Regions from separate parts of the Homo sapiens genome. Here regions 1, 2 and 4 are each linked to region 3. The links come from fine-mapping of genetic effects on gene expression. A gene starts in region 3. Each other region holds a variant in brackets. All regions are shown on one strand. Distances are between the middles of the regions.

The links. PIP is the estimated chance that this variant, and not a neighbour inherited with it, causes the effect.
Region 1: its variant is fine-mapped to the expression of ICAM3 in whole blood (INTERVAL, PIP above 0.99).
Region 2: its variant is fine-mapped to the expression of ICAM3 in whole blood (TOPMed, PIP 0.94).
Region 4: its variant is fine-mapped to the expression of ICAM3 in whole blood (INTERVAL, PIP above 0.99).

Annotation. Positions count from the first base shown.
Region 1 is chr19:10,692,671-10,700,277 of GRCh38, forward strand. No RefSeq gene overlaps it. Among named protein-coding and RNA genes, the nearest start is that of QTRT1, 5.0 kb to the right of the region's middle. RefSeq lists an enhancer at 2,677-3,176 and a silencer at 3,133-3,392. The variant C/A (reference allele first, on the strand shown) is at 3,766.
Region 2 is chr19:10,276,395-10,284,328 of GRCh38, forward strand. ICAM1 (intercellular adhesion molecule 1) reads left to right here. Exons shown (of 7, transcript NM_000201.3): 3 at 7,087-7,392; 4 at 7,639-7,926. LIMASI (lncRNA inflammatory and mucous response associated, antisense to ICAM1) reads right to left here and starts at 7,056. Exons shown (of 4, transcript XR_007067138.1): 1 at 6,927-7,056. The variant G/A (reference allele first, on the strand shown) is at 4,114.
Region 3 is chr19:10,336,206-10,344,139 of GRCh38, forward strand. It overlaps ICAM3 (intercellular adhesion molecule 3), which reads right to left and starts at 3,419. Exons shown (of 7, transcript NM_002162.5): 1 at 3,334-3,419; 2 at 2,477-2,743. The coding sequence starts at 3,409. RefSeq lists enhancers at 2,025-2,773, 3,059-3,158, 3,379-3,428, 3,522-4,269, 4,270-5,017.
Region 4 is chr19:10,309,449-10,316,747 of GRCh38, forward strand. It overlaps ZGLP1 (zinc finger GATA like protein 1), which reads right to left and starts at 367. Exons shown (of 5, transcript NM_001409033.1): 1 at 1-367. The coding sequence starts at 37. It overlaps FDX2 (ferredoxin 2), which reads right to left and starts at 6,567. Exons shown (of 5, transcript NM_001397406.1): 1 at 6,404-6,567; 2 at 6,257-6,311; 3 at 5,938-6,044; 4 at 1,405-1,492; 5 at 597-1,194. The coding sequence starts at 6,548. The coding sequence ends at 1,038. It overlaps FDX2-ZGLP1 (FDX2-ZGLP1 readthrough), which reads right to left and starts at 6,567. Exons shown (of 9, transcript NR_176052.1): 1 at 6,404-6,567; 2 at 6,257-6,311; 3 at 5,938-6,105; 4 at 1,405-1,492; 5 at 1-1,194. RAVER1 (ribonucleoprotein, PTB binding 1) reads right to left here. Exons shown (of 13, transcript NM_133452.3): 13 at 6,764-7,299. RefSeq lists a silencer at 6,202-6,321. The variant ATTT/A (reference allele first, on the strand shown) is at 2,418.

The sequences.
Region 1 (7,607 bases), 360 kb after region 3:
GATGACAGGCAGCGCCACTGTGCCCTGCTGTCGTGTTTATTATTGCACAGTGATTACATGTCAAGTCTGGTGCTGGTTGCTGGGAACGAAATGGTGAACCTGCTCCCAACCCACATGTAGCTTCCAGGCACAAAGAGGGCTGTGTCACAGTGGGACAGGAAGTGCCTGTCAAGGCTTTCCCCTCAGGTGAGAGGATGGGTGAGTTGGACCCAAGAGTGTTAGGAAGGGAAGGGGAGGCCAGGCAGAGGGAATAGCTTGAGCAAAAATTCAGCTGGGGGATGAGGATGGGCTTCAAGAAGCTGAAGTCAGGTGGGTAGAGCATTTTGATGCAAAACAAAGGAATGCTGGGAAATGAGGCTGGAGGTCAGTGGGATCTTGAGGGCCCCCAAGTGGAGTGCCAGGCACAGGAGTTCTTGCCTTCTTTCTAAGGACAGTGGGGAGCCATGGATGGATTCTGACCTGGGAAGACTTCAGGCCCATTCAGGCTCCCAAGAGTATATATTTGTTTATTTATTTTACTTATTTAGAGATGGAGTTTCGCTCCTGTTGCCTAGGCTGGAGTGCAATGGCACGATCTCTGCTAACCACAACCTCCGTCTCCCGGGTTCAAGCGAGTCTCCTGCCTCAGCCTCCTCAGTAGCTGGAATTACAGGCATGTGCCACCAAGCCTGGCTAATTTTGTATTTTTGGTAGAGACAAGTTTTCTCCATGTTAGGCTGGTCTCGAACTCCCGGCCTCAGGTGATCCATCTGCCTCGGCCTCCCAGTGCTGGGATGACAGGTGTGAGCCACCGCACCTGGCTGTTTATTTTTTAAGATGGAGTCTTGCTCTGTCGCCAGGCTGGAGTGCAGTGGAGCAATCTCGGCGCACTGCAACCTCCGCTTCCCAGGTTCAAGCAATTCTCCTGCCTCAGCCTCCCGAGAAGCGGTAACTACAGGTGTGTGACACCATGCCCAGCTAACTTTTGTTTGAGACAGAGTCTTGCCCTATCACCCAGGCTAGAGTGCAGTGGCATGATCTCCGCTTACTGCAACCTCCGCTTTCTGGGTTCAAGTGATTGTCCTGACTCAACCTCCCTAGTAGCTGGGATTACAGGTATGCACCACCATGTCCGGCTTTTTTTTTTTTTGAGACGGAGTCTCACTGTCGCCCAGACTGGAGTGCAGTGGCATGATACCGCTCACTGCAAGCTCCGTCTCCCGGGTTCACGCCATTCTCCTGCCTCAGCCTTCCGATTAGCTGGGACTACAGGTGCCTGTCACCACGTCCGGCTAATTGTATTTTTAGTAGAGACGGGGTTTCACGTGTTAGCCAGGATGGTCTCGATCTCCTGACCTCATGATCCGCCTGCCTCGGCCTCCCAAAGTGCTGGGATTGCAGGAGTGAGCCACCGCGCCCAGCCAATTTTTTGTATTTTTAGTATTTAGTATTTTTAGTATTTAGTATTTAGTATTTTTGTATTTTAGTTCCACCTTGCTGGCCAGGCTGGTCTCAAACTCTTGACCTCGTGATCCACTCGTCTTGGCCTCCCAAAGTGCTGGTATTACAGGCGTGAGCCACACGGCGCCTGGCCTACAGTTTTTTTGTTTGTTTTGTTTTGTTTTTGAGATAGTCTCTCGCTCTGTTGCCCAGGCTGGAGTGCACTGGAGTGATCTCGGCCCACTGCAACCTCCGCATCCCGGGTTCAAGTTACTCTCCTGCCTCATCCTCCCGAGTAGCTGAGATTACAGGTGCCCAGCATTATGCCTGGCTAATTTTTGGATTTTTAGTAGAGATGGGGTTTCACCATGTTGGCCAGGCTGGTCTTGAACTCTTGACCTTGTGATTCGCCTGCCTCAGCCTCCCAAATTGTTGGGATTGCAGGCGTGAGCCACCGCTCCCAGCTGAAACTATTTTTTAGACAGGGTCTCGGTCTGGTATGCAGTGGTGCCATCATGGCTCACTCATCCTCCTGAGTATCTAGGACTACAGGCCTCACTGCCTGGCTAATGTTTGTTTTTCTTCATAGGGGCAGGGTCTCAGGTTGATGTCCAATTCTTGGCCTCAAGCCATCCCCTCTTCAGCCTCACGAACTGTTGGAATTAACCATTGTGAGCCACCGCGCCTCAGTACAGTTCTTTTGGTTGCTGAGCTGAGTAGGTGTATGGGAGAGGTGAGAATGGGGGCCCTGGAGACGACAAGAGGCTTGACTTTTGGAACATCGGAGCTGAGGTTTACAGTGATTTTTGCAGCTGAGTCCACTGGTCTTGATAAGGGAAGAGTTTCTAGACTCAAGAGGGTTAAAAACGGTATGTCAAAGAAAAGGGGCCCGTCCTTCTCATTCTCAGGGAGACCAGCATTCTCTCCACGGAGTAGCCAAGAAGTCCATGAACTCCCAGGTCTTGGGCCAGTGCTTTTGTCTTCTCAAAAGATCTGGCGCCTAAGGTCTTCTTGCTTGGCAACAGGGCAGTAGGTGGGTGGCAATGTCACAGAGGGACGGTCCCCACACGTCCGATGAATAAACTGGAGAAATCCTCCAGGCTATCGAGACGACCACCCGAACTCAGGGCTCCAAGGACCATTATTTCAGCAAAACCCCTAACTCTCCTCTCCTGAATGTTCTGTATTCCTCAGTCAGTGCTCAGAAGTCCGTATCCTGGACCCAGGACCTCAGCACCCGCTCCCTAAGGCCAACCATATAGTCCCCTGTTTGGGGGCTCCCCTGAGCAGTCGCGGGCGATCCCAGAGAAGGCAAGTTTCGGGATCTGACAGCCCCAGTCACGACCCTGGGTGCTGCGCAAGCCTCCATGTGAAGAGCGCGGAAACCGCCCCAGGCCTAGCTGCTGCAAACCACCGCTTCCAAACTTCCCGCCGGTCTCTAGGCTCCGGGTGCCCACCGCCCCTTCCTTCCTTCCTTTGCGCAATCAACAAGCTCCAACTCCAGATGGGATTTCGCAGGCCCTGCCCTGTGTATAAACTCTCTTCGTCCTGGGGTTGTCAACAAAATTTTTTTTTGGAGACGGAGTCTCGCTGTCGCCCAGGCTGGAGTGCAGTGGCGCGATCTCCGCTCACTCACTGCAACCTCTGATTCCCTGGTTCAAACAATTCTCCCGCCTTAGCCTCCTGAGTAGCTGGGATTACAGGCAAGCGCCACCACGCCCGGCAACAAACTCTTCTAATTGGCCGGACTCGCAGGCCCCGCCCCCACAGAGTGTGCCACTGCGTGGAGCGCGCCGCTCCTCATAGGGCGCTTGCGCAGGCTCCGCTCCCTGAGCGGCCGCTTTCCTGGTCTCCAGGCAACGCGTACGGCGCTGTCCACTGTGCTGAAGCCGCACACCAAGCGCCGCCTCTAGCTGCAGGCTCACGGCGCCCCCAGCTCTCCTAAGTGGGCGGTGCCAACACCCTAAAGCAGGGACCACTAAGCCTCCTTTGCGCCCTATCCCCAGTTTATCTCTTGGTAATAGGTAGAGCCCACTTCCCTCCACGTTGGCTGAGAAAGCCCTACCGTCCCATCCAGCTCAGAGGAAAGCCCAAGGCTTCCCGCGATTTCATGCCGTCACCTCCACACCCTCATCCGCTCACCTCCAGCCACACTGACCTCCGCGCTCACAACAGACAATCCAGACACATTCCCACCTCCAGGCCTTTGCTCTTAACTGTTCACGAGGCCTGGAGTGCTCTCTCCGATTCCGCATGACTCCTCCATCCTCCTTTCAGGCTCAAATCCCACCGTCTCAGTGAGCCCAGCCCTGACTATCCTGTCCTACTGAACACATTGACCTCTCT[C/A]TATATGTATGTATGTATATAATTTTATTTTTAGTTTTTTCGAGACAGGATCTTGCTCTGTTGCCCAGGCTGGAGTGCAGTGGTGCGATCATAGCTCACTGCAGCTTCCACCTCCCGGGCTCAAGCTATCCTCCTGCCTCAGCCTCCCGAGTAGCTGGGACTACAGGTGTGCAGCACTGCGCCCGTATAATTTTTGTATTTTTAGTACAGCAGAGGTTTTCGCCGTGTTGCCCAGGCTGGTCTCCAACTCCTGGGCTCAAGCGATCTACCTGCCTCAGCCTCCCAAGGTGCTGGAATTACAGGCGTGAGCCACTGCATCCGGACTAGAATATATTTGTTTAAGTGGGTGGATTAAGCCTCTTTTGATAATTGTTGAAGCTGGGTCATTGGTTACAAGGTGATAACTATGCAATTCTCTGTCCGTTTGTCTATGCTTGAAAAGTGTGTAATGAAGAATGTCAGGTGGCACAGTGATCTCCAGGAGGGGCAGAGAACCAGCATCAGGGGCTACACAGCTAGTGGTGGTACCCCAACGCCAACCCCACACATAGCCCAATCTCACAATGACTAAGTACAGAGACTGTAGTTGATGCTACAAGGATTACTGTGGCTGGAGACCAGATGTGCAACCACCTATAAACTTCCTGAGTGTAGCTTCAGTTTTGACATAAACTGTTCTTATTTTCATGAATCTCTGTGACATGGATGTAGCTGCCTCCAACTCCTGTCCCTAGTGTTTTCGAGCCCAAGGGCCTGTTTCTCCTTATCATTGGCTTTTTTCTTTTTCTTTTTCTTTTTTTTTTTTTTTTTGAGACGGAGTTTCACTCTTCTTGCCCAGGCTGGAGTGCAATGGCACGATCTCGGATCACCACAACCTCCATCTCCCAGGTTCAACCAATTCTCCTTCCTCAGCCTCCTTAGTATCTGGGATTATAGGTATATGCCACCATGCCCGGCTAATTTTGTATTTTTAGTAGAGATGGGGTTTCTCCATGTTGGCCAGGCTGGTCTCAAACTCCCGACCTCAGGTGATCCGCCCGCCTCAGCCTCCCAAAGTGCTGGGATTACAAGTGTGAGCCACTGTGCCCGGCCACCACCACTGGCTTTTGATCCAAATTGTGAATGGCAGAACCTGAGCCTTGTGCAGCCTGGCTGCAGGGCAGGCTGGGAAAGTAACTGTCAATTATAACTTCTATGGAAAGGCAGGCTTAGCCTTAAAAAATATGACATTCTCTCAATGCAGGGGTGTATGAGCGGGGTCAGGTGTTAGGTGGCCAAGAAAAGAAGGGGCTATACTAGCTTCAGAACAGCAAATCCAGGCAACCCTTAATCCAATCAGCCATTCATCCAATCATGGTGATTGCATTCTAAAATGCAGAGGATTCCCTCCAACATCCCAGAAGCTTTGGATAACCAAGAATTGCAGGCAGGTCAGAGCTCCAAGATAAGGTCACCCAGAAAAGAAAGAGACTCACTTTGGATAAGATAATGAAATGCTGTTTTTGGAACCTAAACCACTGAGAGGCAACATTGGCTGCACACAGAAATTCCTTGAGGCTTAAAACAAAAAACAAAAGAAAATTGATGACTGAGTCTCATCCCCATAGATTTTTTTTTTTAAGAGATGATCGGCCAGGTGCAGTGGATCACACCTGTAACCCCAGCACTTTGGGAGACTGAGGCAGGTGGATCACCTGAGGTCAGGAGTTCGAGACCAACCTGGCCAACATTGCAAAACCCTGTCTCTACTAAAAATACAAAAAATTAGCTGGGCATGGTGGTGGGCGCCTGTAATCCCAGCTACTTTAGGAGGCTGAGGCAGGAGAATTTCTTGAACCCGGGAGGTGGAGGTTGCAGTGAGCCGAGATCGCACCATTGCACCCTAGCCTGGGCGACTCTAATTTCTGGCCTCAAGCAATCCTCCTACTTCATCGTCCCAAAGTACATAAGCTACTCACCATAGATTTTAGTTTAAGTTGTCTGGGCATAGAGATAGTTAAAAACTCCACAGGTAATTCTATGTGCAGCCAAGAGTGAAAAACAGTGGTTCTGAAACGAGTGGGCATCAGAATAACACAGAAAGCTTGGCAAGAAGCAGACTTAAACACATATTGGCCAGGCGCTGTGGCAATCCTCCTGCTTCAGTCTCCCAAGTAACTGGAATTATGGGTAATTTTTTAACTTTTTTTTTTTTTTTTTTTTTGCCATGTTGCCCAGGCTGGTCTCTAACTCGTGGGCTCATATGATCCACCCACCTTGGCCTCCCAAAGTGCTGGAATTACAGGCGTGAGCCACTGCGCCTGGTAAACATTTTGAAAAATAGAAATATTAGCTGGGCACGGTGGCTCACACCTGTATCCTAGCACTTTGGGAGGCCTAGATGGGTGGATCGCTTGAGGTCAGGAGTTTGAGACCAGCCTGGCCATCATGGTGAAACCTTATCTCTACTAAAAACAAAAATTAGCCGGACGCGGTGGCTCACACCTGTAATCCCAGCACTTTGGGAGGCCAAGGTGGGAGGATCACCTGAGGTCAGGAGTTCGAGACCAGACTGGCCAATATGGAGAAACCCTGTCGCTACTAAAAATACAAAAAAATTAGCCAGGCGTGGTGGCGTATGCCTGTAATCCCAGCTACTCAGGAGGCTGAGGCAGGAGAATCACTTGAACCCAGGAGGTGGAGGTTGTAGTGAGCCAAGATTGCACTATTGCACTCTCCAGCCTGGGCAACAAGAGCAAAACTCCGTCTCAAAAAAAAAAAAAACAAAAAACGGCCGAGTGCGGTGGCTCACGCCTGTAATCCCAGCACTTTGGGAGGCCAAGGCAGGTGGATCACCAGGTCAGGAGATCAAGACCATCCTGGCTAACATGGTGAACACCGGTCTCTACTAAAAATACAAAAAATTAGCTGGGCGTGGTGGCAGGCGCCTGTAGTCCCAGCTACTCAGGAGGCTGAGGCAGGAAAATGGCGTGGACCTGGCAGGCAGAGCTTTCAGTGAGCAGAGATTGTGCCACTGCACTCCAGCCTGGGAAGCAGAGCAAGACTCCATCTCAAAAATAAAAAAAAAATTAGCCGGGTGTGGCAGCAGGCACCTGTAATCCCGGTTGCTTGGGAGGCTGACGTAGGAGAATCGCTTGAACCTGAGAGGCGGAGGTTGCAGTGAGCTGAGACTGTGCCACTACACTCCAGCCTGGGCAACAGAGTGAGATTCTGTCTCAAAAAAAAAAAAGAAGAAAAGAAAAGAAAGAAAAGAAATAGAAAAGAAAGGATGAGTGTTGTAGACAAAGGCAGGTGCAAAGGCCCTGAGGTTGGCTTGCTGGTGGGCAGGGGTGTTTTCCAGGCGGGTTTTCCGGGTGTGGCCTTACTAAGGATGCCCCACCATCTGGGCAACCGGCATCCTTAGCCTTTCTTACAGGATAGGGGGCTTGAGGCTCCCTTAGACACCCTCTTGGCCAGAGTAGCTCAGTTTAAGACAATTGAAAGGACATCTTCTGGGACAATAGCGCTCTCTGCTGGCCAGGACAGATATCAGATCCAGTTGTAATGATAACAATTACTATATAATATTGTATATTATTATTATCTTTTTTTTTAGGGTTTCGGTCTCACTCTGTTGCCCAGCCTGGTGTACAGTAGCCCAATCATAGCTCACTGCAGCCTCCAACTCTTCAGCTCAAGTGATCCTCCTGCCTCAGCTTCTTGAGTAGCTGAGACTACAGGGGCGTGCCACCACACCATGTTAATGTTTTTGTTTTGATTTTGTTTTTGTTTTTGTTTTTTAGATGAAGTCTCGCTTTGTCGCCCAGGCTGGAGTGCAGTGGCGCAATCGTGGCTCGACCTCC
Region 2 (7,934 bases), 60 kb before region 3:
ATTAGCCGGGCATGGTGGCAGGCGCCTGTGGTCCCAGCTACTCAGGAGGCTGAGGCAGGAGAATGGCATGAACCCGGGAGGCAGAGCTTGCAGTGAGCCAAGATCGTGCCACTGCACTCCAGCCTGGGCGACAGAGCAAGACTCCATCTCAAAAAAAAAAAAAAAAAAAAGAATTGATAACAGCTGTGCTGCCAAGGCTATTGGAACGTAGGAGGTCCTAGGACAGTGCTGTTGGGAGCATAAATAAGCCCAACCCTGTGGCGGGAAATTGGGCATCAGTTCTCAAAATGTCATGGGCTGGGCACGGTGGCTCACGCCTGTAATCCCAGCACTTTGGGAGGCTGAGGGAGGCGGATCACTTGAGGTCAGGAGTTCGAGACCAGCCTGACCACCATGGAGAAACCCCGTCTCTATTAAAAATACAAAAAAAACTAGCCAGGCATAGTGGCACATACCTGTAATCCCAGCTACTCGGGAGGCTGAGGCAGGAGAATCTCTTGAAACTGGGAGGCAGAGGTTGCGGTGAGCTGAGATTGCGCCACTGCACTCCAGCTTGGGCAACAAGAGCAAAACTCCATCTCAAAAAAAAAAAAAAAAGAAATAAAAGAAGGTATGTTGAATATGAGTGGTATGCCACCCTCACATTAGGGAAGGGCAGTTTCGGGGAGGCTGTATTTATGTATAAAATAGCCCTAAAAGGAAGTGGGAGAAATGACAATATTAGCTGGCTATGAGAAGAGAGGCTGGGAGGCTGTGGGAGAGGGCTTGGGTGTGGAGAATTCTTTTTGTTTTTTCCTTTTTTTGAGACAGAGTTTCACTCTTGTTGCCCAGGCTGGAGTGCAATGGCACGATCTCAGCTCACCGCAACCTTCACCTCCTGAGTTTAAGTGATTCTCCGGCCTCAGCCTCCCGACTAGCTGGGATTACAGGCATGGGCCACTACGCCTGGCAAATTTTGTATTTTTAGTAGAGACAGGGTTTCTCCATGTTGGTCAGGCTGGTCTTGAACTCTGACCTCAGGTGATCCGCCCGCCTCGGCCTCCCAAAGTGCTGGGATTACAACGTGAGCCACTTTGCCTGGCTGAGAATTCTTTTTTTGTTGTTGTCTTTTTGAGATGGAGTTTTGCTGTGTCCCCAGCCTGGAGTGCAATGGTGTAATCTCAGCTCACTGCAACCTCTCCCTCCCGGGTTCAAGCAATTCTCCTGCCTCAGCCTCCCAAGTAGCTGGAATTACAGGCGCCCAGCACCACGCCCGGCTAATTTTTGTATTTTTAGTAGAGACGGGATTTCATCATGTTGGCCAGGCTGGTCTTGATCTCCTGACCTTGTGATCTGCCCGCCTCGGCCTCCCAAAGTGCTGGGATTACAGGCGTGAGCCACTGCCCCCAGCCGAGAATTTCTCTTTGCGTCCTTCCTACTTTGGGGACTTCGAATGGTGGGAAAGAGTTATCAAGGCCAAAATAAGGAATTCAAATGAAAACAAAACAAAATCAAAGAAGAAAAAACAGAAGAGCACTGGGCAGGCTAGGCACGTGGCTCATGCCTATAATCCCAGTGATTTAGAAGGCCGAAGTAGAAGGATCGCTTGGAGGCCAGGAGTTGGACACCAGCCTGGGCAACATAGCAAGACCCCATATCTACAAAAAATAAAAAACCTAACCAAGCGTGCTGGCATACTAGTAGTCCCAGCTACTCAGGAGGCTGAGGTGGGAGGATCACCTGAGCCTGGGAGGTCCAGGCTGTAGTGAGCCGTGATGACACCACTGCACTCCAGCCTGGGTGACAGAGAAAGACCCTGTCTCTAAAAAATAAAAACTGGCCAAGTAGCTTTGGGATTAGCCTTGGGTTCCAGTCCCAGCAAGGCCTTTAATAGCTTGGGACATGACTTCTGCATTTACTTTGCAATCAGGTGAGACCTCCTCTGATGGGGAAAATGACACGGTGAGTGACAAAGGATGTTCTCCTATCATTGTGTCAGGGCAAGGAAGCCTCTGGGTAAATGATCAAATGATCAGCTTTGCTTCTGATTTGGAGGGTGGGTGAGCAGATGCTGACCTTCCCAGGTGAGGGAAGTCCCCGAACATTCCCAGCAGCTTCTGGAAACCCCAGGGAAACCTCTTTGAAGGTCTTTTCTGCATCTCTGCCTGATAGGTCTTTTTTTTTTTTTTTTTTTTTTTCTTTTTTTTGACACACAGTCTTGCTCTGTCGCCCAGGCTGGATCACTGCAACCTCCATCTCCCGGGTTCAAGCAGTTCTCCTGCCTCATCCTCTCCAGTAGCTGGGATTACAGGCACCTGGCACCACGCCTGGCTAATTTTTGTATTTTTAGTAGAGACAGGGTTTCGCCAAGTTGGCCAGGCTGGTCTCGAACTCTAGACCTCTGGTGATCCACCCGCCTCAGCCTCCCGAAGTGCTGGGATTACAGGCTTGAGCCACCACGCGCGGCTCTGCCTGATAGCTGAGAGCATAGAACTCCAGGTTTGAGACCTGGCTCTGCCACATTTCTCCCTCTATGACTGTGGGTGCCCCACTTTGCCTTAGTTTTTACCTCTGTGAAATGGAGCAGATGGCTGGCACAGGTAGCAAAGGAGTAAAAGTTATGTGGGAGGGTGGTACCTGAGAGAGACTCTAGCTTGGTCTTGCCCCACCCCTGGTGTAAACATAAAGAAGCCTCCCTGGATGGCTCAATCTTCTCCAAAAAGGTTAGAGGTGTAATTCCTAGAGGAGGCGACCACTAGCTGGGCTTTGAAGGATGTGTAGGAGTTCATAAGGACAGGCATTCTGGGCAGGAGGAACAGCCTGGGCAAAAGTTGGGAGCAGGGAGAAATCTTGATGGAGGCAGGAGGAGGAGGAGGTAGGTTGGTGTAGGCCAGGTGCAGTGGCTCACACCTGTAATCCCAGTGCTTTGGGAGGCCAAAGCAAGAGGATTGTTTGAGCCCAGGAGTTCGAGACCAGCCTGGGCAACATAGCGAGACCCTGTCTCTAAGAAAAAATAAAAAAATTAGGGTACAGTGGCATATGCTTGTATTCTCAACTACTCTGGAGGCTCAAGTGGGAGGATCACTTGAACCCAGGAATTTTTTTGTTTTTGTTTTTGTTTTTTTGAGATGGAGTCTCACTCTGTGGCCCAGGCTGGAGTGCAGTGGTGCCATCTTGGCTCACTGCAGCCTCCTCCACCTCCTGGGTTCAACCGATTCTGCTGCCTGAGCCTCCCGAGTTGCTGGGATTAAGGTGCCCACCATCATGCCCAGCTAATTTTTTTGTATTTTTAGTAGAGATAGGGTTTACCATGTTAGCCAGGCTGGTCTTGAACGCCTGACCGCAAGAGATCCTCCTGCCTCAGTTTCCCAAAGTGCTGGGATTATAGGTGTGAGCCACTGAGCCTGGTCAAGCCCAGGAATTTGAGGTTACAGTCAGCTATGATTGCACCACTGCATTCCAGCCCAGGTGACAGAGAGAGACACTGCCCCTAAAAAAAAAAAAAAAATTGATTGATGGGAGGAAGGGTGAGGTTGGCAGAGCCTTGAATGCCAGGTGGAGGAGCTGGGACTTTCCTTCTTGGGGTGATAGGGAGTCATGGAGGGTTTCTGAGCAGGCCAGGGATTAGATAGCTGAAGGCTGGATTTACTGGAAGCCAATGAGCAGTTGGCTATGGTCCTTGTCCACGCGGCCCATGTTGTGGGCAGTGACCGTATTCAAGAAGGGAAGGACAGACAAGTATTTGAATACTTCAGTGACCAGGATTTGGTAAAGGACTGCAGGTCAGGGTCAAGAAGAGGTGAGAGCAGGACAGACTTCCTCCCCGCTGCACCAGGCAGCTGAGCTGGGTTTCCTCTAGGGGCTGAGGTTTGAGGGTACCTCAAGTTCTGCAAGAGTCTATAGGAGGTGGTAAGAGAGAAGAGCTGGAGGTCAGAGTTTTCTTGACTATATATATATATATTTTTTTGTTTTTGTTTTTAACAGCTTAACAGCTTTCTGTTTTATTTTTAGAGACAGGGTCTCAGGGTCTCACTTTGTCACCCAGGCTGGAGTGCAGTGGTACAATCGTAGCTGACTGCAGCCTCAAACTCCCAGGCTCAAGAAATCCTCCTCCCACCCTTAGCCTCCTGAGTA[G/A]CAGGGACTACAGGTGTGAGCCAGCAGGAAGCCCAGCTGGTTTTTTTTTTTTCTTTGGTGTTTTTTGTTTGTTTGTTTGAGACCGGAGTTTCGCTCTTATTGCCCAGGCTGAAGTGCAATGGCAGGATCTTAGCTCACCACAACCTCCGACCCCCAGGATCAAGCTATTCTCTTGCCTCAGCCACCTGAGTAGCTGGGATTACAGGCATGCGACACCACACAAGGCTAATTTTGTATTTTTAGTAAAGACAGGGTTTCTCCATGTTGGTCAGGCTGGTCTCGAACTCCCAACCTCAGATGATCCACCTGCCTCGGCCTCCCAAAGTGCTGAGATTACAGGCATGAGCCACCGTGCCCGGCCTTTTTTTTTTTTTTTTTTTTTTTGAGACAGAGTCTCACTCTGTCGCCCAGGCAGGAGTGCAGTGGTTCGATCTGGGCTCACTGCAAGCTCCGCCTCCCGGGTTCACTCCATCCTCCTGCCTTAGCCTCCTGAGTAGCTGGGACTACAGGCGCCCACCACCACGCCTGGCTAATTTTTTGTATTTTTAGTAGAGACGGGGTTTCACCGTGTTAGCCAGGATGGTCTTGATCTCCTGACCTCGTGATCCGCCCGCCTTGGCCTCCCAAAGTGCTGGGATTACAGGCGTGAGCCACCATGTCTGGCCTGGCCAGGCTGGTCTTGAACTCCTGACTTCCGGTGATCCATCTGTTCTGGCCTCCCAAAGTGCTGGGATTACAGGCATAAGCCACCACGCCATGCCGAAGCCCAGCTTGTTTTTAATTTTTTTTTTTTTTTTTGGAGAAATGAGGTCTTGCAATGTTGCCCAAGCTAGCCTTGAACTCCTGGCCTCAAATGACCCCGCCTTGGCATCCCAAAGTACTGGGATTACAGATGTGAGCCACCATGCCCCAGCCTTGCTTTCTTGAGATACGATTTAGAATACCATAAGATTCATCCCTTTTAAGCACATAATTCAATGACTTCTGTACAAACAACCATGACTACAATCTAATTTTAAAATATTTCAATCACTCTAAAAAAGAAACCTCCTGCTTATGTACAGCGACTCTGTCTACCTCTTAAGTGAATTCTCCTACCTTTAATAGCCCTATTTTACAGTTCAGGAAACTGAGGTTCAGAGAGACAAAGTCACTTACCCACAGCAAAGAAGCAAGGCTGGGTATCAAATGCAGGACCCCCCCGGTCCTGATGCTTTTTTTTTTTTTTTTTTTTTCCTCTGAGAGAGACTCTCACTCTGTCACTCAGTCTAGAGTACAGTGGCGCGATCTCAGTTCACTGCAATCTCTGCCTCCTGGGCTGAAGTAATCCTTTCCTCACAAGTAAACCTCAGCCTCTCAAGTAGCTGGGACTACAGGCACACAACACCACGCCTGGCTAATTTTTGTATTTTTAGGTAGAGACGGGGTTTCACTATATTGGCCAGGCTGGTCTTGAACTCCTGACCTCAGGTGATCCGCCTGCCTCGGCCCCCCAAAGTGTTGGGATTACAGGCGTGAGCCACCACACGCAGCCTTTTTGTTATTAGACTCTGTCATTACTGACTTTTTTTTTTTTTTAATAGAAACAGGGTCTTTCTTTCCCAGGCTAAAGTACAGTGGCATGATCACAGTTCACTATAGCCTTAAACTCCTGGGCTCAAGTGATCCTCCTGCCTCAGCCTCCCAAGTAGCAGGGACTACAGGTGTGCACCACCACACCCAGTTAACCATTCATTCATTCATTCATTCATTTATTTTGAGATGGAGTCTCGCTCTGTCACCTAGGCTGGAGTGCAGTGGCACGATCTCAGCTCACTGCAACCTCCACCTCCCAGGTTCAAGAGATTCTCCTGCCTCAGCCTCCCGAGTAGCTGAGACTACAGGCGTGCACCACCATGCCAGACTAATTTTTGTATTTTTAATAGAGACGGGGTTTCACTCTGTTGGTCAGGCTTATCTCGAACTCCTGACTTCGTGGATCCACCCTCCTTGGCCTCCCAAAGTGCTGGGATTAAAGGCGTGAGCCACCGCGCCCTGCCAACCTTTTTTTAATTTTTCTTAGAGATGGGGGTCTCCCTATGTTGCCCAGGCTTGTCTTGAACTCCTGGCCTCAAGTGACCCTCTTGCCTTGGCCTCACAAAGTGCTAGGATTACAGCCTGAGCCATCACACCTGGCCAACAGGTTTTTTTTTTTGTTTTGTTTTGTTTTTTAAAGAATGTCTAGGCCAGGCTCATTTACTTTCACCTGTAATCCCAGCACTTTGGGAGGCCGGGGTGGGCAGATCACTTGAGGTCAGGAATTCGAGACCAGCCTGGGCAACATGCTGAAACCCCGTTTCTACTAAAAATACAAAAATTAGCTGGGTGTGGTGACACGTGCCTGTAATCCCAGCTACTCAGGAGGTTGAGGCAGGAGAATTGCTTGAACCCAGGAGGCAGAGGTTGCAGTGAGCCAAGATCATGCCATCACCCTCCAGCCTGGGCGACAGAAGGAGACTCAGTCTAAAAACTTAATTAATTAATTAATTAAAAATAAAAATACAAAAATTAACCTGGTGTGGTGGTGTGTGCCTGTAATCTAAGCTACTCAGGAGGCTGAGGCAGGAGAATCCCCTGAATCCCAGAGGCAGAGGTTGCAGTGAGCCAAGATCGAGCCACTGTTTGCCCAGTCTAGTGCACTGGGCTGCTGAATTTATTTGACCAGACACCTAGCAATAGACTTTGAAGTTCTTTTCCACTTTTCACTCTAAGATGCTGCTGTCATGAATAAGGAATATTTTGATCCCCTTCACAAACACTCGGGGCCCTCTTACCAGTTTTCACTGAAGATCTTGACATTCCTATCTGCTTAGGTGTCTGGGCGTGTTTGGGGGAGATACTGAAGAGGTAGGGCTCCCAGGCAGGTGCAGTTCGTCTGTTAGGCAGGCAGCAAGGTCCACTTCACCAGACACCCCCACCTCTGTTTTCCTGCAGGGACTCCAGAACGGGTGGAACTGGCACCCCTCCCCTCTTGGCAGCCAGTGGGCAAGAACCTTACCCTACGCTGCCAGGTGGAGGGTGGGGCACCCCGGGCCAACCTCACCGTGGTGCTGCTCCGTGGGGAGAAGGAGCTGAAACGGGAGCCAGCTGTGGGGGAGCCCGCTGAGGTCACGACCACGGTGCTGGTGAGGAGAGATCACCATGGAGCCAATTTCTCGTGCCGCACTGAACTGGACCTGCGGCCCCAAGGGCTGGAGCTGTTTGAGAACACCTCGGCCCCCTACCAGCTCCAGACCTTTGGTGAGGATTGAAGAAGCCAGCAGGGAGAAGGTGGGGGTGGGGTATCCTGCAATGCGGTGCCTGTGGCCACAGGATCTTTTGAGATGGGTGTGGCCCCGGCTAAGGGGTGCATGTGTTCTAGGCGTATGTGACCTAGGCTGCTGAGTGGCCCTGGAAGAGGATCTCGCAGGAGGGGGAATGAAATGCCCCAGAGAAGGGCTTCGGGACGTCCATCCCTGTCTGCTCACACCTTTCTTCTCTCCCTAGTCCTGCCAGCGACTCCCCCACAACTTGTCAGCCCCCGGGTCCTAGAGGTGGACACGCAGGGGACCGTGGTCTGTTCCCTGGACGGGCTGTTCCCAGTCTCGGAGGCCCAGGTCCACCTGGCACTGGGGGACCAGAGGTTGAACCCCACAGTCACCTATGGCAACGACTCCTTCTCGGCCAAGGCCTCAGTCAGTGTGACCGCAGAGGACGAGGGCACCCAGCGGCTGACGTGTGCAGTAATACTGGGGAACCAGAGCCAGGAGACACTGCAGACAGTGACCATCTACAGTAAGAAG
Region 3 (7,934 bases):
TTCTCAAAGATGGCACAATAAAAAAAAATGAGGATGGAAGGGATGAACGTTTATGACTATGATATGAATATTAAAAATTCCTGTTTATGGCCAGACGTGGTGGCTCACGCCTGTAATCCCAGAGCTTTGGGAGGCCGGGGTGGGTGGATCAAAAGGTCAGGATTATTCAGTTCTCTCCAATCAGGTTCAGACACTCAGGGCTTTCCTGGTTCACCAGCCCTGTGGCAGCCTCTCAAGATACTCCGGCACAGTCACAGGAGACTTGACACTCCCAGGCTGGGTGCCCTCCCCAGTACACCTACAAAACGCTGGGCCTCAGGCCGGGCACTGTGGCTCATGCCTGTAATCCCAGCACTTTGGGAGGCCAAGGTGGACGGATCACCTGAGACCAGGAGTTCAAGACCAGCCTTGCCAACATGGTGAAACCCCATCTCTACTAAAAATACAAAAATTAGCCAGGCATGGTAGCACGTGCCTGTAATCCCAGCTACTCAGGAGGCTGAGGCACAAGAATCGCTTGAACCCAGGAGGCAAAATTTGCAGTGAGCTGAGATAGTGCCACTGCACTCCAGCCTGGCGACAGAGAGAGACTCTATGTCAAAAAAAAAAAAAAAAAAAAAAAGGCTGGGCAAGGTGACTCATGCCTGTAATCCCACCACTTTGGGAGGCCGAGGGAGGCGGATCACTTGAGGTCAGGAGTTTGAGACCAACCTGGCCCATATGGCAAAACCCTGTCTCTACTAAAAATACAAAAATTAGCCGGGCATGGTGTCACACGCCTGTAATCCCAGCTACTAAGGAGGCTAAGACAGGAGAATCACTTGAACCCAGGAGGCGGAGGTTGCAATGAGCTGACATCGCGCCATTGTACTCCAGCATGGGGGACAATAGCAAGACTGCGTCTCAAAGAAAAGAAAAGTCAAAAAGTAGGCCAGGCATGGTGGCTCACGCTTATAATCCCAGCACTTTGGGAGGCCAAGGCGGGCAGATCATTTGAGGCCAGGAGTTTGAGACCAGCCTGGGCAACATGGTGAAATCCTGTCCCTACTAAAAATACAAAAATTAGCTGGGCGTGTTGGCATGCGCCTGTAATCCCAGCTACTCAGGAGGCTGAGGCAGGAGAATCGCTTGAACCCGGAAGGCAGAGGTTGCAGTGAGCCAAGATTGCGCCACTGCACTCTAGCCTGGGGGACAGAGTGAGACTCTGTCTCAAAAAAAAAAAAAAAGAAAAGAAAAGAAAAAAAAAAGTAGCCAGGCCTGCAATCCCAGCTACTGGAGAGACTGAAGTGGGAGGATTGCCTGAGCCCAGGAGTTTGAGACCAACCTAGGCAACATAGGGAGATCCTGTCTCTAAAATAAAGGTATAAAAAAGTGTAAATGTAAAACCTCCATTTGCCTACTGCTGACTGAAAGGGGTACCCCCTTTTTTGCTTAAGAGACAAGGGTCTTGCTTTTTTGCACAGGCTGGAGTGCAGTGGTGCAATTATAGCTCACTACAGCCTTGAACTCCTGGGCTCAAGCGATTCTCCCACCTTGGTCCCCCAAGTAGCTGGGACTTCAGGCATGTGCCACCATGCCCAGCTAATATTTTTTATTTATTTTTGTAGAGACGGGGTGTCCCTATATTGCTCTGCCTGGTCTTAAATTTCCGGACTCAAGCAATCCTCCTGCCTTGGCCTCCCAAAGTGTTGGGATTATTGTTGGGGCCAGGCGCAGTGGCTCACACTTGTAATCCCAGCACTTTGAGAGGCTGATGTGGGCGGAACACCCCGTCTCTACTAAAAATACAAAACTTAGCTGGGCATTAGCTGGACCTGGGAGGCAGAGGTCGCAGTGAGCCGAGATTGCACCACTGCACTCCAGCCTGGGCTACAGAGTAAGAGACGCCATCTCAAAAAAAAAAAAAAGCTTGTTGGGGCCGGGCGCAGTGGCCCATGCCTGTAATCCCAGCACTTTGGGAGGCTGAGGTGGGCGGATCGCCTGAGGTCAGGAGTTCAAGACCAGACTGGCCAACATGGTGAAATGCCATCTCAACTAAAAATACAAAATTTGCTGGGTGTGGTGGCGTGCATGTGTAATCTCAGCCACTCGGGAGGCTGAGGCAGGAGAATCACTTGAACCCAGGAGGCGAAGGTTGCAGTGAGCCGACATCGTGCCACTGCACTCCAGCCTAGGCAAAAAGAGCGAAACTCTGTCTCAAAAAAAAAAAAAAAATGCTTGTTGGGGCCCAAGTTAATTGATTTCACAACTGCTGCCTTGGCATGAGATTGAGATGCGTCTCTATATCTCTGTCTCTGTCTCTGTGTCTCTGTCTCTGTCTATCTTTGTATCTCACACACAAATGTCCAGGTCTGAGCTCTGGGTCAGAACTGTGGTCCATTCTTTGCAAACTGAGGGTCCCCACTCTCCTGAGCCATTGGCCACTTGCCCACACCACTACCCAAGACCAGTCCCACCTCCGGACACGTCGACTCACTGTACACGGTGATGTTAGAGGAGCCTGTTATCTGAGAGCCATTGCAGTACACTGAGCAGAGGATCCGACTGTTGCCAGTCACGTTGCTGAGATTGAAGGCTGCCCAGCCCATGCCACTGGCCACCAGCTCCTTTGATAGGGACGTCTCCAAGGCGATTTTCTCAGAGCTGGGACAATCAGTACTGCAGTTCACAAACAGGGACCCTCCAGCAGAGAGCACAGGGTTCTGGGGCTCCACCCGCAAAAGGAACTCCTGCCCCTGGACACCTTCAGGAACATGAAGAAGTCCTGGTGTTTGTTTCCTTGTCCCCCAACCCACGCATCAACAGGCCCCACCATTTAACACCTCTCTCCTTGTGCCGAGACAGAAGGGTTCCTGCCTTCATGGTCCAGTGGGAAAGGTAGAATCCATCAGAGACCGGGGAGAACTCAGAAGGAGGCCAGAAGAGGCTCTGATCCAGCATAGGAGGAGGTGAGTCAGGGAAGGCTTCCTGGAAGCGGGGACCATTGCAGCCCGAAACTGAAGGCTAAGTAGGAGTTAGCAAGTGAAAGGGACAGGTGATCCTGGCAGAGGGAAGCACATACGCAAAGGGCAAATTTCAGGAGTTCAGATGGAGCAGGAAGCATGAGGGGTGTGTGTGTGTGTGTTAGGGGAGAGGGATGGCGTACAAGCCTATGCTGGGGCCTGACCACCTGAAGGCTGAACTAAGGAACCAGAACTTTCTCCCGAGGATACAGAGTCAGCGGCCAGGTCGCAGTGTGGCAGGATGTGAACAGCGTTGCGTTCTATTCCTCTACCCTCTACTGATCCCCAAAACGCAGCCCTCTCCAGCCCTCCCCGGCTTGACTGGTCTCACCTGGGGTCAGCAGACAGCAGACCAGCAGAGTCCAGCAGGCCCTGGGCCACAACACGGATGGTACCATGGTGGCCATTCTGACAGAGGAAGGTGCCTTCCTGAGGTGCCCGAAGGGCAGGCAGGGGAAAAGGCGGGGCCTCCCACTGCGACGGAAGCACAGCGGTTAAGATTGCAGAAGTCTGGGGACTGCACCTTGCCCAGGCCTGTGGGTGGAAGGGGATGCTGTGGCCCTTGGGGGCCAGGGTGGGGGACCCAGACGGGGCTCTGCAAAGTGGCCAGCACTGCTGAGTCTCCCCCAGGGAATGGGCTGGTCCCAGTTGCACTGCTGGCCCCCATTTGAATTCACAGGAAATGCTAACTAAACTGGTTTCTTTTGTTCTCAGCACTGGGAAGCCTGGGTGGGGGGGATGAGGCATCTCCTTCTGGCTGAACTTAGGTGGGTAGGGGAATATTCTGTCCCCAGAGAGGAAGTTAATGGGGAAAACTGTAGGCACCATTGTGTAGATGTTAAGGTGGGATTTCGAGGAAACATTAAAAAACAAAAACAAAAACAGAAACAGAAGCAGAGTCTTGCTATGTTGCCCCGACTGGTCTTGAACTCCTGGCCTTAAGATGGCCTCCTCTCATCTTGACCTCCCAAAGTGTTGCGATTACAGGCGTGAGCCACCACGCCTGGCCACCTTTGAAGATCTTGAGGATACCTCCCTATCTTTGAAGATCTTGGGGATCCCCCATCCCCTGCACAAAGAGCTAAGGTAGGTGATTTGGGGACAGCTGAGTCCCTGAGCCACTGTCTATCCAGGATTCTACTTGGTTTTTGTTTGTTTGTTTTGAGACAGAGTCTCACTCTGTCACCCAGGTTGGAGTGCAGTGGCGGGATCTCGGCTCACTGCAGCCTCTGCCTCCCGGGTTCAAACGATTTTCCTGCCTCAGCCTCCCGAGTAGCTGGGATTACAGGCATGTGCCACCACGCCCGGCTAATTTTTGTACTTTTTGGTAGAGACGGGGTTTCACCATGTTGGCCAAGCTGGTCTCAAACTTCTGACCTCAAGTGAGCTGCCCGCCTTGGCCTCCCAAAGTGTTGGGATTACAGGCGTGAGCCACTGCGCCCGGCCTTCCAGGATTCTACTTGTAACTGGCCTTTACCCCATCCTGTTGTCCCCTTGCCCACCCTTCCAGGCAGCTGGTCACTGCATTCCAAGGGAAGGCGCCAAGGGGACCAGGTGGGACCCCCACCTTTGACCTGCCTCTGACCTCAGGCCTCTGACCTGCCTTCTGGGCTTCACATCTGAGCTCCAGAGAGAGAGGCCTTGTTGAGAGCCTTGATGGGGCCCTGCACTCACCCACTTTCCCCAGACCTTGAGGTCACAGCACCTCCTCTCTCATCTAGAGCACCCCCACCTTCCTAAGCAGGTCCCTCCTCTATTCCTCTACCTTCCGAACAATCCATTTCCCACCTGGTGTTGAGAGAGCAGCTAAAACCCAAGTCTAGTGTATTTGTAAACAGCAGGGACCAGTAGCATGGGCCTGGTGCCTGTAGTCCCAGCTCCTTGGAAGGCTGAGGTGAGAGGATCGCTTGAGCCTGGGAGGTCAAAGCTGCAGTGAGTCGAGATTGTGCCCCTGCACTCCAGCCTGGGAGACACAGTGAGACCCTGTTTCCACAAAAAAAAAAAAAAAAAAAAAAGATGTCGGACTTACTGGCTCACGTCTGTAATCCTAGCAGCACTTTGGGAGGCTGAGGTAGGTGGATGACGAGGTCAGGAAATCGAGACCATCCTGGCTAACACAGTGAAACCCCATCTCCACCAAAAATATAAAAAATTAGCTGGGCATTGTGGCGGGCACCTGTAGTCCCAGTTACTCAGGAGGCTGAGGCAGGAGAATCACTTGAACCCAAGAGGCGGAGGTTGCAGTGAGTGGAGATTGTGCCGCTGCACTCCAGCCTGGGTGACAGAGCAAGACTCTGTCTCAGAAAAACAAACAAACAAACAAACATATATATATAATTTATAATACTTACGTAATAGTGAGACCCTGTCTCTAAAAATAAAAAAGAAAGAAATATTTGTAAATAAGTCATATTTCTTTTTTGTTTTTTGAAACAGAGTCTCACCGTGTCGCCTAGGCTGGAGTGCAGGGGCACAATCTCAGCTAACTGCAATCTCAGCCTCCTGGGTTCAAGTGATCCTCCCACCTCAGCCTCCCTAGGAGCTGAGACCACAGGTACACACCACTGTGCCTGGCTAATTTTCTGTAGAGACGGCTTTCACCATATTGCCCAGGTTGGTCTTGAACTCCTAAGCTTAAGGGATCTGCCTGCCTCGACCTCCCAAAGTGCTGGGATTATAGGCGTGCCCTGCTACACCCGCCAGTAATATTTCTGATAAAGAAGTATTTCTGGGCCAGGTGTGGTAGCTCACGCCTGTAATCCTAGCACTTTGGGAGGCTGAGGCGGGCAGATCACGAGGTAAGGAGATCGAGACCATCCTGGTTAACACGGTGAAACCCCATCTCTACTAAAAATACAAAAAAAAATTAGCCCCGTCTCTACTAAAAATACAAAAAAAAATGGTGGCAGGTGCCTGTAGTCCCAGCTACTCGGGAGGCTGAGGCAGGAGAATGGCGTGAACCCAGAAGGCGGAGCTTGCAGTGAGCCGAGATCGCGCCACTGCACTCCATCCAGGCTGGGCAACAGAGTGAGACTCCATCTCAAAAAAAAAAAAAAAGAGTATTTCTGGGCCAGGCGTGGTGGCTCACACCTGTAATCTTAACACTTTGGGAGGCCTAGACAGGCGGATCCCTTGAGGTCGGGAGTTCCAGACCAGCCTGGGCAGCATGCCAAAACCCTGTCTCTACTAAAAATACAAAAAATCGGCCAGGTGCAGTGGCTCACGCCTGTAATCCCAGCACTTTGGGAGGCCGAGGCGGGCGGATCACGAGGTCAGGAGATCGAGACCATCCTGGCTAACACGGTGAAACCCCGTCTCTACTAAAAAAAATACAAAAATTAGCTGGGCATGGTGGCGGGCGCCTGTAGTACCAGCTACTTGGGAGGCTGAGGCAGGAGAATAGTGTGAACCCGGGAGGCAGAGCTTGCAGTGAGCTGAGATTGCGCCACTGCACTCCAGCCTGGGCGACAGAGCGAGACTCCATCTCGAAAAAAAAAAAAAAAGTACAAAAAAATCAGCCAAGCTTGATGGCACACACCTGTAGTCCCAGCTACTCAGGAGGCTGCAGCGGGAGGATTGCTTGAGCCCGGGAAGTGGAGGTTGCAGTTAGCTGAGATTGTGCCCCTGCACTCCAGCCTGGGCGACAGAGAAAGGTCACCTACACATGTTTAAGGGGCCTCTGCACATATCTCAAGCCATTGACAAGAAAGCAAGTACAGTCTGGATTGCAAACAATGTATAATTTAAGCTCCAGCTGATTTTTTTTTTTTTTTTGAGACAGGGTCTCAGTCTGTCACCCAGGCTGGAGTGCAGTGGCATAGTCTGGGCTCACTGCAACCTCTGCCTCCCAGGTTCAAGTGATTCTCCCGCCTCAACTTCCCAAGTAGCTGGGATTACAGGCATGCACCACCACACCCAGCTAATTTTTTGCATTTTTAGTAGAGACGGGGTTTCACCATGTTGACCAGGCTAGTCTCAAACTCCTGACCTCAGGTGATCCGCCCGCCTCGGCCTCCCAAAGTGCTAGGATTACAGGCGTGAGCCACCGCGCCTGGCCTCCAGCTGATTTTTGACAGCCACATTGTTGCTATAGGATCCTTTTTACGTGTGATGGTGATGGTCTCTGGTTCTCCTCATTCCCACAAAGGTTGTTGAACCACAGCACCAGTAACACTGAGAATGCTAAGGGCTCTAGCCCAGGCTTTCTCCCAGGTTCTCTGGTGTGCGCCCTCCTGGTGACAATGAAATTGAAGCTAATTGCTTTCACTGGTTGAGTCTCTGATCTTGAGTGGCTGTGTCCACATTTCATTTTTTTTTTTTCTGGTAGGAATAACTACTTTTCTGCATCCATGCTCCATAGACTCTGTCCTTTTCAGACATCCTGGGATAAAAAGATTTGGCTTTTTTTTTTTTCTTCTTCTTCCTGAGACAGGGTCTGGCTCTGTCTCCCAGGCTGGAATGCAGTGACATAATCATGGCTCACTGCAACCTTGACCTCCCAGGCTCAGGTGATCCTCCCACCTCAGCCTCCCTAGTAGCTGGGACTATAGGTGTGTGCCACTACACTCGGCTAATTTTTGTATTTTTTCTACAGAGGAGCTTTTGACATATTGCCCAGGCTGTTCTCGAACCCCTGGGCTCAAGTGATCCTCCCAACTCAACCTCCCAAAGTGCTGGGATTATTACAGGGGTGAGCCACTGTGCTGGGCTTTCACTCTTAGGCTATTAAACAATGAAGGTAGTTATTGATCCTATCTCTTTCATATTCTTCTTCTTTTTTTTTTTTTGAGAATGAGTCTTGCTCTGTCTCCCAGGCTGGGCTCACTGCAATCTCCACCTCCCAGGTTCAAGCGATTCTCCTGCCTCAGCCTCCTGAGTAGCTGGGATCACAGGCGTGCGCCACCACACCCAGCTAATTTTTGTATTTTTATT
Region 4 (7,299 bases), 27 kb before region 3:
CTGGCATTGAGGAGTCCGGGATTGGCTCGGCCTCCATTGCGCCCCAGCCCAGCCCCCTCCCTAATTTCACCCGGCCCTGTCCCGCTGGGCCCACCCGATGAAACCCACCTGGGAGGGGCGGGACCTGTGTGGTGGGAGCGCTCTTGGTAGAGGATGCGATGAGCCCCAGCTGAGAGCGACCAGCCTCGGCGGCACCTTTCCTCTTTCTGGCTTTTTTCAGGTCATCCGCGCACCCCTGCGTGGCAAGGGCGGCCTGGACCCCACCAAATCCCTCCGCAGCTGCCGGGGCGGGGCCTTCCACGCTAGCCCTCCCCCTCGGAAATGGGGGCTCCCAGGCCTCTGCCTTGGATCCCCAGCGGCATCTTAGATCCCAGAGGGAAAAGAGAACCGGGGGCCCAGCACAGCAGATGCAGGTGTGGTTTGTTTTTGTTTTTGTTTTTTTTTTTTTTGAGACAGGGCCTCACTCTGTCACCCAGGCTGGAGTGGAATGGCCTGATCACCGCTCCACTGCAGCCTAAATCCCCTGGGCTCAAGTGATCCTCCCACCTCAGTCTCCCGAGTAGCTGGGACTACAGGCACTTACCACCACTCCACGCTAATTTTTACTGTTTTTATAGAGACGAGGTCTCGCCATGTTGCCCAGGATGGTCTTAAGCTCCTGGCCTCAAGTGATCCTCCCATCTTGGCTTCCCAAAGTGCTAGGATTACAGGTGTGAGCCACCTGTAGACCCCAGATCTGTCCCCCAAGGACACTCAACATGCTGGGGCCTGTGTTATCGATTTATTGCAGCTCCAATATGAGTCCACTCCTACTCAAACCCTGATTCTCAGGGGCCTGGGGAAGGCCACCCCACTAGGGGCCCTGTCCCCACCAGAGCCTGGACATGGGACTCTCTCCCAAGCAGGGGTGTTGTCCTTCACAGGGGCTTCCACGTCTCTCCCGGGCCTGTCCGCACTCTGGGCAGGGCTGGCACCTGGCTATTCCCTCAATCTGGGCCCTGGGGCCATGGCAATGTGGAATGGTCCAGGTGTTCATGTCAGTGGGGCTTGGGGACATGGCCATCCACGTAGAAGTTCCTGGTGATCTTGGGCAGGGTGAATTCCGCTCCTTCCAGCTCCGGTGTCAGCACAATCTGGCAGCCCAGCCGCGAGTTCTCCTGGAGGAGGGGGGCCATGTCTAGCATGTCGTCTTCCCTAGGGTGGTGACACGGGCAGTGTTAGCCGAGGGCAAGCTAGCTGGGTGGGTGGGGGGCCAGAGGTGGGGGAGGGAGGAAGCTGACTGAGCGCAGGGGGTAGTGGTGGGGGAGGCAGCTCCCATTCCAGGAACTGGAAGTGGGGAGGATGGTGGGGGCTGCTGAATGCTCCAGGGTGAAGCTGCCAGCTAGACAGGGCTGACCCACTCACCTCTCCTCGGGAGGAGGCAGGAGATCCAGGTGGTCTTCACTCACATACACATGGCAGGTGGAGCAGGCCAGGGAGGCTTCACAGGCCCCTAGGGGTGGGAAGTGAAGGGGGCGCAGGTGAGTGGCAGAGTCAGGAAGGGGCTGCTATGCGAATGGCGTAGAGGAGTAGACCTCTCTTCCACCACGTGCCTCACGTCTCCCTCCTGGGCCTGCAGCTCCACTGTGTGTACCAGGCACTGTGTCATGTCCTCAATGTCCTCAGCTAGCTGTTCCCCAGTGTGTAGGGTTTACAAACGGACATCTGGGAGGCCCCATTTCCCAGGGACTCCCTAGCAGGCTGAGATGCAGAACCATTAAGGAGCAGGGACTTGGCTGCCAGGTAGCTGAGAGGGGAAAGGCCAGGCAGGCTCCCCGCAGTCTGTGAGCCCTTGCTGTGACCCTATCACTGTGCTGGGCTAATGTGTCCCCACCTCTCCACTGCTCTTGGAGGATGGACCGGCTGACTCAGCAGTCAGTGTGGTGGGGGAAGGAATCAGGCATTAGGATTTTGTTTTTTTTTTTTTTGAGATGGAGTCTTGTTCTGTTGCCCAGGCTGGAGTGCAGTGGCACGATCTCGGCTCACTGCAAGCTCTGCCTCCCGGGTTCACGCCATTCTCCTGCCTCAGCCTCCCAAGTAGCTGGGACTACAGGTGCCTGCCACCACGCCTGGCTAATTTTTTTATATTTTTTTAGTAGAGCTGGGGTTTCACCATGTTAGCCAGGATGGTCTTGATCTCCTGACCTCATGATCTGCCCGCCTCAGCTTCCCAAAGTGCTGGGATTACAGGCGTAAGCCACTGCACCCGGCCAGGATTTTTTTTTTTTTTTTTTGAGACAGGGTCTCACTCTGTTGCCCAGCCTGGAGTGCCATGGCTCAGTCATAGCTTACTGCCTCAACCTCCCGGCTCAAGCGATCCTCCCACCCCAGCCTCCCGAGTAGCTGGGACTACATGTGCGCACCACCACACCTGGCTA[ATTT/A]TTTTTTTTTTTTTTTTTTGAGGTGGAGTTTCGCTCTCTTTGCCCAGGCTGGAGTGCAATGGTATGATCTCGGCTCAATGCAACCTCTGCCTCCCAGGTTCAAGTGATTCTCCTGCCTCAGCCTCCCAAGTAGCTGGGATTACAGGTGCCCACCATCACGCCCAGCTAATTTTGTATTTTTAGTAGAGATGGGGTTTTGCCATGCTGGCCAGGCTGGTCTTGAACTCCTGACCTCAGGTGATCCACCTATCTCGGCCTCCCTAAGTGCTGGGATTACAGGTGTGAGCCACCGCACCTGGCCATATTTTTTTTTTTTTTTTTTTTTTTTGTAGAGACGAGGTTCACCATGTGGCCCAGGCTGGTCTCAAACTCCTAAGCTCAAGCAATCTGCCTGCCTTGGCTTCCCAAAATGCTGGGACTACAGGCATATGCCACTGCACCAGACCAGGAATTAGGGTTGAAAGAGACAGAACCTGAAGTTTTCTGCTGACCACCTGCCCTTGGTCACACCCCCACATCCTCTGATCACAGAGACCGGTGCTTGGGGATCATGTCCCTCCTGGCCTAAAACTTTCCAAAGGGTTTTCACACTCAGAATAAAATCCAAACTCCTTCACTTAGTCTTGCAGTTCCCCCATCCCCCTCATTCATTCCTTTGTTTTCCTTTGTAATTTTTTTCTTAGAGATGGAGTCCCGCTCTGTTGCCCAGGCTGGACTGCAGTGGCGTGATCTCGGCTCACTACAAGCTCCGCTTCCCGGATTCACGCCATTCTCCTGCCTCCGCCTCCCAGAGCAGCTGGGACTACAGGCGCCTGCCACCATGCCTGGCTAATTTTGTTTTTGTATTTTTAGTAGAGACAGGGTTTCACCATGTTAGCCAGGATGGTCTTGATCTCCTGACCTCGTGATCCGCTCGCCTCAGCCTCCCAAAGTGCTGGGATTACAGGCGTGAGCCACCACACCTTGCCAGGCCACTTACCTCTACTAGCCCGGCACAGTGGCTCATGTCTGTAATCCCAGCACTTTGGGAGGCCAAGGCAGGCAGATCAACTGTGGTCAGGAGTTTGAGACCACCCTGGCCAACATGGCGAAACCCCATCTCTATTAAAAATACAAAAACTTAGCCGGGCATGGTGGCAGTTGCCTGTAATCCCAGCTACTCGGGAGGCTAAGGCAGGAGAATCACTTGAACCCTGGAGGTAGAGGTTGCAGTAAGCCAAGATCATGCCATTGCAGTCCAGCCTGGGTGATAGAGCGAGACTCTGTCTCAGATAAATAAATGAACAAATAAATCTATCTCACATTCCAATCCCTGTCCTAGACTATTGGCTGCTGGATTCCAGAACAGAACTTTAGGTAGGCCTTTCATAACCCCTCCCAACATATCTTCCCCTTTAATGATAAAATCAGGATCCCTGATATATTCATCCCAAAAGCAAACCCTATATATTTTCTTCCAGACAACCCTTCCCAAGTTGGTCATAATTATGTATTTACCTGTGGGATTATTGTCCCTATTAGACCGAAATGGATGTGAGATGACAGAGGCCTTATTTGTTTTGTATATTGCTGCCTGACGCGCAGTAGGTATTCATAGAAAGGCAGCACAGATTAGTGGCTACAATGGACTGGTGAGTCTAGTATTGTCACTCACTTGCCCTTAGACCAGGTCTACTTAACCTGGGGTTTAGTTGCCTCATCTATAATAGGGAATAACAGTCTCTACTACTCAAGTTGTCATGAAGATTCAGTCAGTGAATATTTATTAACATGGTTAAAGACATATATATATATATATATATATTTTTTTTTTTTTTTTTTTTTTTTTTTTTTTTTGAGACAGTCTCACTCTGTCGCCCAGGCTGGAGTGCAGTGGCGTGATCTTGGCTCACTGCAAGCTCCACCTCCCGGGTTCATGCCATTCTCCTGCCTCAGCCTCCCGAGTAGCTGGGACTACAGGCGCCCACCACCACGCCCACCTAATTTTTTGTATTTTTATTAGAGACGGGGTTTCACCATTTTAGCCAGGATGGTCTCTATCTCCTGACCTCGTGATCCGCCCGCCTCGGCCTCCCAAAGTGCTGGGATTACAGGCGTGAGCCACCGCGCCTGGCCTTTTTTTTTTGTTTGTTTGAGACAGAGTCCCGCTCTGTCATGCAGCCTGGAGTGCAGTGGTGCCATCTTGGCTCACTGCAACCTCTGCCTCCCAAGTTCAAGTGATTCTTGTGCCTCAGCCTCCCAAGTAGCTGGGATTATATGCATGTGCCACCACGCCCAGCTAATTTTTGTGTTTCTTGTAGAGACAGGGTTTCGCCATGTTGGCCAGACTAGTCTCAAACTCCTGTCCTCAAGTGAGTCGCCTGCCTCGGCCTCCCAAAGTGTTGGGATTACAGGCATGAGCCACTGTGCCTGGACAAGAAATTTCTATTATTATTTTTCTCTCAACAAATTATCAAACATCTGTTACATCTTGACAGGCAACAGATAAGCATGAATAAGGACATGGGTCACCAATCTCACTGGGGGACAGATGACAAAGTAGGAAACAAAACAGCCTGGCATTGTGGCTTGTGCCTATAATCCCAGCTACTTGGGAGGCTGAGGTGGGAGGATCACTTGAACCCAGGAGTTCAAGGCTGCAGTGAGGTATGATTGCATCATGGCACTCCAGCATTGGCGACACAGCAAGGCTCCGTCTCTTGAAAAAAAAAAAGTGAGAAGTGCTATATATCATATCACACTGATAAGACAGAGTAACTAGGGCATGGGTACTTCAGCTGGGCTGAGGGGAATGGGATTGTTAGGGACATGACATTTACACTGAGGTCTGAAGGATGAGAAAGAGCCAGAATGTTTGCTGGGAAAGCACTTCAGACAGAGGGAACAGCAAATGTAAAGGCCCCGAAGCAGGAATGAGCTTGGTTGTTTGAGGAACCACAAGAAAGCCAGTGTGGGCTGGGCGCGGTGGCTCATGCCTGTAATCCCAGCATTTTGGGAGGCTGAGGCGGGTGGATCACCTTTCAGGAGTTTGAGACCAGCCTGGCCAATGTGGTGAAACCCCGTCTCTACTAAAAATACAAAAATTAGCTGGGCTTGGTGGTGGGCGCCTGTAATCCCAGCTAGTCTGGAGGCTGGGGCAGGAGAAACGCTTGAACCCGGGAGGTGGAGGTTGCAGTGAGCTGAGGTGCAGTAAGCCATTGCACTCCAGCCTGGGCAACAAGAGTGAAACTCCATCTCAAAACAACAACAACAAAAAGAAAGCCAATGTGGCTAGAATACAGGGAGGAAGGGGGAAGAGAACACAAAATCCTGGGAGCCAGGAGTCCTAGTGATCTCTAATAAATGCTTAACAAATAAGAGCTTGGCAACAGATGAGGCCATGGTGAGGGGTTTGGATTTTAGTCCATATTTGGTGGGAAAAAGACGTGAAGAGACACACCTAATTTGTGGGTTTTTTTTTTTTTTTTTTTGGACAAATGTATAAGGACCTCCTTAATTCCCTCTGCCCGGTTCCTACCTTCCAGGTCCACCCCGTGGCGCTGGGCCAGGTGAAGAACATTGTCCCCGACTCTGCCACTCACTGGGATCCGCTGGCCTGAGCGGTCTACGAACACCACGTTCACCCTGGGGACAGATGGAAGTGCGAATGCCGAACTGGATGATGGGCTCAGGGCCCGGGTAGAATCTAGGGTTAGGAAGTAGGAATTGAGGCTTGACGCACAGGTACTGAATAGGGCAAAGCAGAAGGGGGACCTCGAGATGAAGCTACAGGGCAAGATGGGGACCAGAGGAATTCCGTGGGATGAGGAATGGGGGACTTGGCCCCCTGCACTCACACGTCCCCGGGCCGCTCCGGGCCGCCCGCGTCCTCCTCTCCAGCCGGGCGCGAGCCTGGAAAACACGGTTCGGTGAGCGGCTGCGCCGAGCCCCGCCCCGCCGGCATCTGACGGATTAACGCTGCCCGCCCCGGGCGCCCCAGGTACCTGTCGCTTGAAACTTTCTGGTTGTCCCCAGCGCCACCCCCTCCCCCGACCCGGAAGTGCCCCCAGGTCTGTTCCACCAGGTGCCCCTGGCAGCCTGCAGTAGAACCCTGGCACTCACGCCTCCCCGGGCCATGGAGGCGGCCATGACATGCATCACGTGACTCACCGACTGAGCATGCGCCGCGCCAGGGAGGCGAGGGAAAGCCCATAATCAATGGAACATAAGCGCAGATGTTTGCTTAGGGCCTGCGGTGACCAGGTGGGAAGAGCAGGGCGGAATCCATCTCAGGTAAACCCGCGGGGCCATCCCAGACCTCCCACTCAAGCCCACTGTTTGTCCCAAGAACCAGCCAACTCTGATTTCTTTAAAACCATTTACTTACAAACTTTAATTCAGCAAAGGTCCGTGTGGGGAGACTGGGGTGGGGTCGGGGGAATAGTCCCCTTGGAGTGGATGTGGACCCCCAGAGTCAAGGGAGGGAAGCTGGTGGCCCAGTTGGCTGGGGGCAAGGCCCAGGGTCACCTCAGGTCGACAGGTCCTGCTGGTGGGCGGGCCCAGAGTTTATCTTCATGGAGTGCTGGTTTCTGGCACTGGGCTGGAAGGAGGCCAGCTCCAGGGATCTGGCCGGGGGTGGGCAGGCAGAATTCAAGAATTCATCTTCAACAAGCGAGTGACAGCAGAGGCTCCGGGAGATGGGCACAATGTCCGACTCCCACAGACAGACAGCAGGGGACTGGCAGAGAAAGCCCATCTCTGCACGGAGGCCCGGGTAGGAGGGGGTGGTGGGGCCGGTTCGCCAAGATGAAGGCTTTCCCCTTCTACTGTCCCCAGGGTGGAGATCCTGGGTAGGGTGGCCCAATCCCTAGGCCAGAGCTGTTTGGTCCATAGTCAAGCT